2 separate regions of the Homo sapiens genome follow, and region 2 is linked to region 1. The links come from fine-mapping of genetic effects on gene expression. A gene starts in region 1. The other region holds a variant in brackets. All regions are shown on one strand. Distances are between the middles of the regions. Region 1 holds the start of BUD23 (BUD23 rRNA methyltransferase and ribosome maturation factor). Region 2 overlaps STX1A (syntaxin 1A).

The links. PIP is the estimated chance that this variant, and not a neighbour inherited with it, causes the effect.
Region 2: its variant is the best candidate, but not a certain one, in a credible set for the expression of BUD23 in whole blood (TOPMed, PIP 0.88).

The regions. Positions count from the first base shown.
Region 1 is chr7:73,681,616-73,686,615 of GRCh38, forward strand. It overlaps BUD23 (BUD23 rRNA methyltransferase and ribosome maturation factor), which reads left to right and starts at 1,982. Exons shown (of 12, transcript NM_017528.5): 1 at 1,982-2,058; 2 at 2,152-2,189. The coding sequence starts at 2,011. It overlaps DNAJC30 (DnaJ heat shock protein family (Hsp40) member C30), which reads right to left and starts at 1,838. Exons shown (of 1, transcript NM_032317.3): 1 at 1-1,838. The coding sequence starts at 1,808. The coding sequence ends at 1,128. RefSeq lists enhancers at 1,260-1,349, 1,590-1,759, 2,690-3,539, 3,540-4,389.
Region 2 is chr7:73,705,356-73,710,801 of GRCh38, forward strand. STX1A (syntaxin 1A) reads right to left here. Exons shown (of 10, transcript NM_004603.4): 2 at 3,690-3,767; 3 at 3,234-3,333. Among named protein-coding and RNA genes, the nearest start is that of MIR4284, 3.2 kb to the right of the region's middle. RefSeq lists a silencer at 1,736-1,945 and an enhancer at 1,792-2,544. The variant G/T (reference allele first, on the strand shown) is at 2,768.

The DNA.
Region 1 (5,000 bases):
ACCTGGCCCTGCTAGCATTATGCTGTAATCCCTGTGGATTAGAACTATGGATAATAGGGCCGGGAGCAGTGGCTCATGCCTGCAATCCCAGCACTTTGGGAGGCTGGACGGGCAGACAGCCTGAGGTCGGCAGTTCGAGACCTCAGTCTGGCCAGCATGGTGAAACCCCGTATCTACTAAAAATACAAAACACTAGCCAGGTGTGGTGGGAGCCTGTAATCCCAGTTACACAGGAGGCTGAGGCAGGAGAATCGCTTGAACCCGGGAGGTGGAGGTTGCAGTGAGCTAAGATCGCACCACTGCACTCCAGCCTGGGCAACAGAGCGCAAGACTCCATCTCAAAAACAAAACAAAACAAAAAACCCCCCAAAAACTATGGATAATAAAGCATGACAGACCTCAAGATGCCAAATGATTTTCTCCTCTGCTGTCATGCCTACAGAGTAACTTCTCCAAGGTCACACATTAAATATGGGCACAGGAACACTCATTCCTTATGCTCAATGACTTTTTCTCACTCCTACATGCTATCAACATAAGGAGGAGTGCCCCAGGGGGCTGACCTTAGCGGGAGGAACGACAGGCTCTCCACCGATCCCATTCTTACCCTGGACCAGGTCTCACCTGCGGCTTGGGGAAGTCACAGAAAGACAAGTTTCGTACAACCCCAGACCTTTTCTTTTGGTAGTCAACAATTGGTCACATTGCACATTTCAAGGTTACAGAGGCCCACCATACACATGCGGGGCAGGAGGAGATAAATCTTGCTTGGGGCTAAACAATAAAGCTACAGCGAGTGTTCCAGAAGTTGACCACATCTGGAAGCAAGAAGACAGACTCTGGAAGAAGCACCCTAGAGACTCCAGGAACCCCCTTCACTCCTGGGCTTTCGGGACTCTACAGCGTGGGGCCTCTTTCTCAGACATCGAAAGGCCTCCTTTTCTGGACCACAGTGGAGCGATGTGCAGGTCATCGGCTAAGCTGGGCGGGTCGGGGAGGGCAGGGGGAGTACAGTTCCTTCGGATCCCAGCAAAGGTAGACTATCAATGGCCAAGGGTTCAGAGGCAGGAAAAAAGGCCGTTTCTGGGGGGTTGGCTGGGGACACTCCCCTTCCCTTCTCTCTCCGATTAAATATAAAAGCCGATGATGATGAAGATTGAAAAGATGAGGAAAATGGCAGCCGTGTCTCGGGTATCCTCCCAGCGGAGGCCTTTCATGGACCGATACTCCTGCCGTTTGCGAAGGGCCTCCCGCCGGGCCCTCAGGCGCCGTTCCCGCTCCAGTTGTTCCCCGTAGTGGGCCTGGTAGAAGGCGTCAAAGTTGAACATCGTGCGGTTGGCGCCGGGGGAGGCCCGAGAACCGTCGTGGGTCCGAGAGGTGGGCGGCGGGGTACGCGGCGAGCCGGGGTCGGGTGCGGGCGTCCTGGAGGGCCGGACGCCAGGTCCGCGCAGGTCCTCGTCGCTGAGTAGGCCGCGATCATACTTGCGACGGAGGGTGGCACTGCCCAGCACCACGTAGGCCTGGGAGATGCGCGTGAAGCGCTCGGCGGCCTCCGCGCTCCCGGAGTTGCGGTCCGGGTGGTAGAGAAAGCACTGACGGTAGTAAGCCGCCTTGATTTGGGCCTGCGTGGCTGTGGAGGGGACGCCGAGCAGATCATACAGCGCCGTGCGCGAATACGAGCAGTCGCCCTGGGAATAAGTCCTCGCTCCTAGGCCCAGGCTGGGTGCAGAATTTTGTGGAAAGCCACGGGCCTGCAGCAACCTCCAAGGTAACAGCCGCTGCCACCATCGCCAGCGCATGGCTGCCATGTTGAATTGATTCGGCAGGCGGTGCAAGAGAAACCGGCCAATGAGAGGAGTCGGTTGGTCGCCCTGTGGCCAGTCACGTAAAGGGGGGGGCGGGGCGGTCGTGGGGGTGGAACATGCGTATTACTAAGCGGTCGCCGGGCTGATGACATAAAAACCGGGTGCCGGCAGGCGCCAGTCGCAGGTGTGCTGCTGAGGCGTGAGAATGGCGTCCCGCGGCCGGCGTCCGGAGCATGGCGGACCCCCAGAGCTGGTAAGTCCCGGGGCCCGCGGACACCCCTCTCCCCACTTCTGCGGCCACCGCGTCTGAATTATTCCTCTACATGCCATTTTCTCTTTTTCGCAGTTTTATGACGAGACAGAAGCCCGGAAATACGTTCGCAAGTGAGGGGAGCCTGAATACTGCGGGGCGTCCGGGGGTCGGGAAGCGGCAAGTTGCCCCTGTTGCTGGCGTTGCCCGGAAAGGCCGTAGAATTTGGGGGTGCGGGAAGGGAAGGACCCGGGTGGGTGCCGATTTCTGTCTCTGGTAAATCAACTTTAAGTTGCCGACCTCTCTGGGCCTCGGTACCTCAGCGTTGAGGTAGGGGTGATCGCGCTTGCTTTCCGTGGGTGGTTTTCAAAGTCGAATGTGACAATTTGTCCTAAACATGTGGTAAAAGAGGCGCTGGGCGGTGGGTACGGGCGAGGGGTCAGTCCTGGTGGGGGGAAGGAAGTAATGGCCGTAGGATGCTTATCGTGGCGCCTTGTTGCCAATAAATCTCCAAGACAGCAGTTGGTGTATTATTGTCTGAATTTCATAGAGGGTAGTTTGTATAACTACTGAGTTGTAGCCAGGTGGGAGTGGCTCACGCGTGTAATCTCAGCAATCGCAGCACTTTGGGAGGCTGAGGCGGGAGGATCGCTTGAGCTCAGGGGTTCGAGACCAGCCTGGGCAACGTAGCGAGCCCCCGTCTCCGCAAGTAATAAAAAAATTAGCCGGGTGTGGTGGCTCCCCTCTGCCTCTCCAGTAGTTGGGACCACAGGCGCGCGCCACTACGCCTGGCTTTTTTTTGTAAATTTTTGTTGCGATGGGGTCTCGCTGTGTTGCCCAAGGTGGCCCAAGCCCAGGGCTCAAGCGATCCTCCCGCCTTCGTCTCCCGAACTGTTGGGATTGCAGGCGTGAGCCAGCGCACCTCGAGTCGTTAAAAAAAAAAAAAAGGGGGGGGGATGGGGGCGGGGGGAAGCTGGCGCGGTGTCTCACGCCTGTAATCGCAACACTTTGGGAGGCTGAGGCAGACGGATCACCTGAGGTCAGGAGTTCGAGACCAGCCTGGCCAACATGGCGAAACTCCAGCTCTACTAAAAATGGAAAAAATTAGCCGGGCGCGATGGCGGGTTTCTGTAACCCCAGCTACTCGGGAGGCTGAGGCAGGAGAATAGCTTGAACCCGGGAGGGGGAGGTTGCAGTGAGCCGACATCACGGCACTGCACTCCAGCCTGGGCGACAGAGCAAGACTTTGTTTCAAAAAAAAAAAAAAAAAAAAAAAAAAAAAAAAAAAAGATACTTTGTGGTTTTTCCGTGCTCTCTCACTGAGAGACTAGCCCTATTTCAGTAAATGGTTACTGGCCGGGCGCTATGGCTCATACCAGTAATCCCAGCCCTGTGGGAGGCGGAGGTGGACGGATCACCTGAGGTCAGGAATTCCGAGACCAACCTGGCCAGCATGGTGAAATCCCGTCTCTACTGAAAATACAGATATTAGCCGGGCCTACGGGAGGCTGAGGCAGGAGAATCACTTGAACCTGAGAGGCAGAGGTTGCAGTGAGCTGCGATCGCACCACTGCACTCCAGCCTTGGCGACAGAGTGAGACCCTGACTCAATAAATAAATAAATAGCTATTGGATACTGTTTCTTTTTTTTAGGGACAGGGTCTCTCTATTGCCCAGGCTGGAGTGCCATGGCATGATCCCTGCCGACTGCAGCCTCAAGCCATCCTCCCCAGCAGCCGGAACTAGAGGCACTCGCCACCACACCGGCTGAAATAGCTTGATAATTTTTTGTGCGTGTGAGACAGGCTCTCATTCTATCGCCCAGGCCGAAGTGCTGCAGTGGCTGCAACCTCGCCTCCCGGGTAGTTGGAACTACAGGCGCGCCTCCTCGCGCCCGACTAGTTTGTGTAATTTTTTTGTGGAGAGGGAGTTTTGCTATGTTGCCCAGGGATCTGGTAAGTTGCTCACGGGATCCACCCGCCTTGGCCTCCCAAAGTACTGGGATTATAGGCGTGAGCCACCAGGCCCGGTCCTTGCTGATGACTTTTTATGTCGATTATATGTTGAAGTGATATTTTGAACATATTGAGTTAATGGAAATACGTTATTAAATATATGGGGTTAAAAATATGACTCCAGAGGCCGGGCGCGGTGGCTCACGCCTGTAATCCCAGCACTTTGGGAGGCCGAGGCTGGCGGATCACAAGGTCAGGAGATAGAGAAATCCTGGCTAACATGGTGAAACCCCGTCTCTACTGAAAATGCAAAAAAAAAAATTAGCCGGGCGTGGCGGCGGGCGCCTGTAGTCCCAGCTGCTGGGGAAGCTGAGGCAGGAGAATGGCATTAACCCGGGAGGCGGAGCTTGCAGTGAGCCGAGATCGCGCCACTGCACTCCAGCCTGGGCGACAACAGAGCAAGACTCCGTCTCAAAAAAAAAAAAAAATATGACTCCAGTTTCTTTTACCTGTTTCTTTAAGTTTCTTCTTGACTGGCTATTGGGAAGCCATGCGTGGCTCACATTCTGTTTCTCACAGACAGTGCTGCTGTAGGTTTTTGTGCATTGTTGATCCTTCTAGATGAGAGAAACTATGGAGAATAATTTTTGGAGAAAATGTTTTCAACAAGTGCTAGAGCAGCCCAGCCTAATAGAGTTGCAGATCCCAGTGGTTGTTTATTACTAGCTAAGTGATTTGCTTTTACACATCTGCTTGGCAGCTGGTGCAATGATAAGTTGTTACCACAAAATAACATGGTCCTGAATTACATGGAATTTTTGGGGTCACTTTCGAATGGTTGAATTTGTTGATCCCAACTTAGAAGGGGTCAGAAAAGAGTACCTCGGGATGATTGATCCGTTTTTTGTTTGTTTTTAACTTGGCTTTTTTTTGTTTTTTGTTTTTTGGTCTGGGGGAAGTATTCACCCAGAACTCCTTTACCATGTCCAC
Region 2 (5,446 bases), 24 kb after region 1:
AAGGCTCTGCCTGCCCGCCCCCCTCCCCCAATTCTGGGCCAGGGCTGCACCAGCTGCAGCTTCACCCCCTCTTGTGCTGTCTTCGGAGGAGCCTCCCTTCCTCCTTTGCTGGCGCCCCCACCCCCTGGAGATAACAGATGGGTCTAAATTTAAGGCAGAAGTAATTGTGGAGCAGCTGGCGATGCTGGAGTTGGCGCCGGGAACAGTGACTTGATGCTTGCTGGAGTTGAAGGGGTGGGGGGGCGGTGTGGGCTCACCTGGTGTTACCTGGTGGCTCAGGAGGGTACGCAGCCAGGCAGGGGGTTGACAGGGGACCACCCCACACTCCCTGAGTCATATGCGCAAACACTCTGGGTGGGGCAGACCTTGCTGTTCCCACAAAGCTACGCCTCCCTGGGTGCTAAGTACCTGGCGGGCGGAAGAGGGCAAGGGGTGGATGGCCTGGGTGGGCGCTGATGTGGGCCCTCAGGTCCAAAGAGGTGGGCACAGTTGGCCCTGGCCGTGGCAGGTAGCTGGGGCCCTGGTGAAATTGGACGAGGGTGGTGACATAGTGTTTTGTGGCCCTTGTTCCAACTAGAACCATCTCCCTAAAGCTGGCAGAGGCCATGGGGGTGCCCAGCTTGCCCCCCTGCCTGAGAGAAGCTGGATGGAAAAGTGGGACAAGACAGCTGCCTCCCTTGGGGGTGCTCCTGGCAACACCCCAGTCTCAGGACACCCCCAGGACTCTGCCCCGAGAGAAGCCGGGACTGAGCTCTGGCTATCACCTTCCCACCTGCCCCTCTGCTTGCCCCTGGGGCTGGGGTTTGTCCTAGAGGGGACAGGGAGGGGTGTTGAGAGTGGTCTATCAGGAAGGCCCCGGATGGGGTCACCTCCCAAGTGGAATGCAGTGAGGTGGAGCGGGGAAGGGGGGGTTCCGAGGCGCGGAGGAGGGCGCCTCATCCGTAGGAACAAAGGAAAAGTCGGTTACCAGCTGCTCTGACGTCTCAGCCTCTTTTGCTCAGACCCAAAATAGCCCAGGCCGGATGGCAGCCCCCAGAGGAGGCAGAGCCTGCCTTGCCCGGGAGAGCCCCCCACTCATTGCCATCTTTCCTTGAGACTTCTCCTTAACTCTGTGCCGCCTGTGCCCTAGAACCCCCAACATGAGCCCCCTCCTCTTAGCGAGAGCCTGGGACTCCGCCAGGTCTCAACTGCTCAGCTCACGGGTGGTGACTCAGAACCGGTCCCTATGACTGTGCATGACACCGCAGCAGGAGACGGTGCAGGAGGTGGCCTGCAGGAGCCCAAGGTGTGGAGCAGACAGCTCTGCTGCCCCATGCCCGCCCCACCTGCCAGCAGTGAGAGACCCACTCCCCTGCTCTTTAGAGCCCTCCGTCCCCACCCCACAATCAGCCACCTCCTGACCCTGAGCAGGAACAGCCCACAGAGGGACACACAGTGACCCAGATACCTCTGGGCGCACAGACATCCGTCTCATGCTGCCATCCAACAAATCTCTCAGGCAAGGAGCTCAGCGTGGTGAGCCCTGGGCGTCCCTCTCTCCCTCCTGCCCTTCCTGAGGCAGTCCACCCTGCTCCCACCTGACCCATTTTGCCTTCTGAGGGCGGGGCACTGGCTTAGTTGGTGTGGCACTGACCTGGGTTCATGCACACTTTGGGGCTGTGAAAAGATTTACTCTGGGTTCTTGAAGATGCCAGTGGGCTTGGGGGTGAGGGGTCATAGACCAGGAGGCCGTGCTGGAGGTGAGAAGAAAATCTGACCCCGGGCACCTGGGTGGCCAGCGCTTGCCTCCCTCAAACACCTGATGGCTGCATCCCTGGGGCTCATGGTGAGCCCCCCTCCAGGGAAGGGCACCTATGCCATCAGCCTGGCATCTCTCAGTGTAGTAAACAACATCTCAACAGGAACATGAGGACCGGGTCAGGGGGACCTGTCTGGGGACAGAGTGCGAGCCTGACACACAGGCTCCCAGTGTGGAGGGAGAGGGGTGACTTCCTGGAGCCCTGAGAATGCCCGCCCCGGGGTGCCACATGGCCAGGTGCCAGGGCTGCCAGCTCCTTCCGGAAGCTCTGCCTGCTTGGCCAGCTTGCCCTCCCACAGCGCTGACGACTTAGAGCTGCCATCTGCTCCCCTGGGAGGCGAGGGGAGGGGCGGGGCTGGACCGAGAGGCCTTCCTATTGATCACAGACAGCTTCCTCCTTCCCTCCTTCCTTCCCTCGCTCCCAGAAGCCCAGGGCTGCAGCCAGCCCAGTTGCCTTAGAAAAAAGCCAGTTCGAAATGAAAAAAAATACCTTCTTGGGGCTGGGCGTGGGGGCTCATGCCTGTAATCCCAGCACTTTGGGAGGCCGAGGCGGGCGGATCACCTGAGGTCGGGAGTTCGAGACCAGCCTGACCAATATGGAGAAACCCCATCTTTACTAAAAATACCAAAAATTAGCCGGGCGTGGTGGCGCATGCCTGTAATCCCAGCTACTTGGGAGGCTGACGTAGGAGAATTGCTTGAACCTGGGAGGCGGAGGTTGCAGTGAGCCGAGATGGCACCACTGCACTGCAGCCTGGGTGACAGAGCAAGACTCCGTCTTGAAAAAAAAAAAAAGAAAAAAGAAAAGAAAAAAGGAAAAAAGCCAGTTCGGCTGGGCGCGGTGGCTCATGCCTGTAATCCCAGCACTTTGGGAGGCTGAAGCAGGTGGATCACGAGGTCAGGAGATCAAGACTGTCTTGGCCAACATGGTGAAACCCCGTCTCTACTAAAATACAAAAAATTAGCCGG[G/T]CATGGTGGCGCGTGCCTGTAATCCCAGCTACTTGGGAGGCTGAGGCAGGGGAATCGCTTGAACCCGGAAGGCAGAGGTGGCAGTGAGCTGAGATTGTGCCACTGCACTCCAGCCTGGCGACAGAGCAAGACTCCATCTCAAAAAAAAAAAAAAAAAAAGAAAAAAAGAAAAAAAAGGCCAGTTCACCTGGGAAGGGCGGGGCCGATCGCCTCTCCCATCACCCAAGTCTTTCATGGAGACCTGGTCTGGCCGGCCTGGGATGCTGGGTACTGACCCCCCAGTTCCAAGCCGGGGACAGCTGCATTTCCCAAGGCTTCTCGTGAAACCCTCCCGACCCTGGCCCGCCCAGACACTCCTAAGCCCACCAGCCATGAAGGCTGCAGAGGTCCCGTGAGGCCTCCCTGGCAGCAGCCCCTTCCCGAGGCTTGTGGGGCCTGAAACCCGTCCCCCGCCCCACACACTCACTCTCATCGGGGTTGGGGGATGCCAGGATGGCACTGTGCTTCCGCTTCACCTCCTCCACGTTCTCTGCGATCTTGTCAATGAAGCCTCGAATCTCCTCCACCTGCGGACCAAGGCCAGGTGGTCAGGAGAAGGAAATCAGGGGAGAAGCCTTCTGGGGCCCAGAGATGGCCCAGAGTAGGGCTGCGGTCAGGGCTCAGGGGGAGGACGGGCCAGGCTCCGGGTGCTGGGGTGCAGTGGGGGTGCATCCTTCCAGACCCAGATGGGGAGGAGTGTGATCCCAGATTTAGCTCCGCTCTGAGCTTCCATCTATTCACCCTCAAAACGGTTCATTCGTTGGCACCCCGGAGCTGCTGAGCCAGGTGCAGGTGTGAAAGAGCACTGAACCTGGCTCAGAGGCGAGAGTGGCCCCCCAAGTTCTGCCAGTGTGCGGGAAGGGTGGGGTGTGCTGGCTCCCACCTGCTCAAAGAACTCATCCATGAAGCGGTCTCGGTCCACGGTGACAGCGACATCATCATCATCATCGCTGTCCTTGGCCTGTGCGGGGTTGTGCACACATAAGTGGACGTATGTACAGGACCCACCTGTACACACGCAGGTGCCCAGGGTACAGCGCCAGGGCCCTGCCCCTCCCCCTCTCCCTGGGGGCCTCTGGGCAGGGACAAGAACAGGCCTGGCTGTTCCGCTCCCAGCCACAGTAAGATCTGGAGGACCACTGGGGGCCCGGCACAGAGAGAGGAACCTTGCCTGATACACTGGTGTCAAGGCCAAGTCTCAGCCTCTGGGCCAGGGACTTCCTCCCTCACCTATCTGCCTGCCCCCTCCCTGTGGCTGGGGAGGCAAGCGAGCCTGGGGCCGGCCGCTCTGTCTGGGCCCTCTGGGTCCCCTAGGCCCCTAGGACAGCTGCCTGGAAAGTGCATTCTCTACTCTCCTGGCCCTGTGGTTTACACACACACACACAAACACATACACACATCTGTAGAGTTGAGGTCTTGCTGTGTCACCCAGGCTGGAGTGCAGGGGTGCAATCACAGCTCACTGCAGCCTTAAACACCTGGGCTCAAGCGATCCTCCCAACTCAGCATCCCGAGTAGCTGGAATTATAGGTTTCCACAACCATGCCTGGCTCCAGTGGTTTTAATTCAGGTGGAGCCCAGAGGTCCCAAGCTCCCTTTCCAGAGTGGGCCCTATAAGGGGAGACCTGCCTACTGTGTCCCAGCCCTGGGCACCACTAAACCCCAGTCCCGAGGTGGCACGGATCAGATCTCTTAGGAATCTCCTGTGAGTCTTTTTTTAAAACAGTTTTTAAATTTAATTTTTATTTTTGTAGAGACGGGGGTCTCACTGTGTTACCCAGGCTGGTCTTGAACTCCTGGCCTCAAGCGATCCTCCTGCCTCAGCCTTCCAAAGCACTGGGATTGTAGGTGTGAGCCACTGCACTTGGCCTCCCTGTCGGTCTTGCCATTGGACCTCGGTCTGCCTCCTTCCAGTCCCCAGACCTGGGCCCAGCAGGCACAAGGGGACAGTCATGTTGCCACTTGGCTTGGGTCCTGCCTTAGGCCTCAGCCACAGTTACAAGCCCCACTCCACTGTCCCAGGACCAGCTGTACAAAAGCCACCCCCATCGTGGGGCAGGGGTAATCATACTTCTGACTTCCCAGCATGCTGCGCACAATTATTACTGTCTGCCTCATACCGCCAGTTGGCCAGGGTCAGCCCACGCTGCTGGCAAGGCCAGGTCTCTCTCTGCAGCCAAGGCAAGGATATCCGGGGTGGCCACCCTGGGGCAGGGACTGAGGTCTCTCAGCCTGGGGCTCAGGGCTTGTTCCCACCTCTTTTATTTTTATTTTTTTATTTTTTGAGAGAGTCTCGCACTGTCACCTAGGCTGGAGTGCAGTGGTGTGATCTTGGCTCACTGCAACCTCCACCTCCTGGGTTCAAGCAATTCTCCTGCCTCAGCCTCCCGAGTAGCTGGGATTACAGGTGCATGCCACCATGCCCAGCTAATTTTTGTATTTTTAGTAGAGACAGGTTTCACTATGTTGGCCAGGCCGGTCTCGAACTCCTGACCTCAGGTGATCCACCCGCCTCGGCCTCCCAAAGTACTGGGATTACAGGCGTGAACCACCACATCTGATCTTGTTCCCACCTCATTTCTGAGTGCCTCACGGGAGTGGCCACTGACTAGCTCAGCACTGACCCCACCTCGGTGCTCT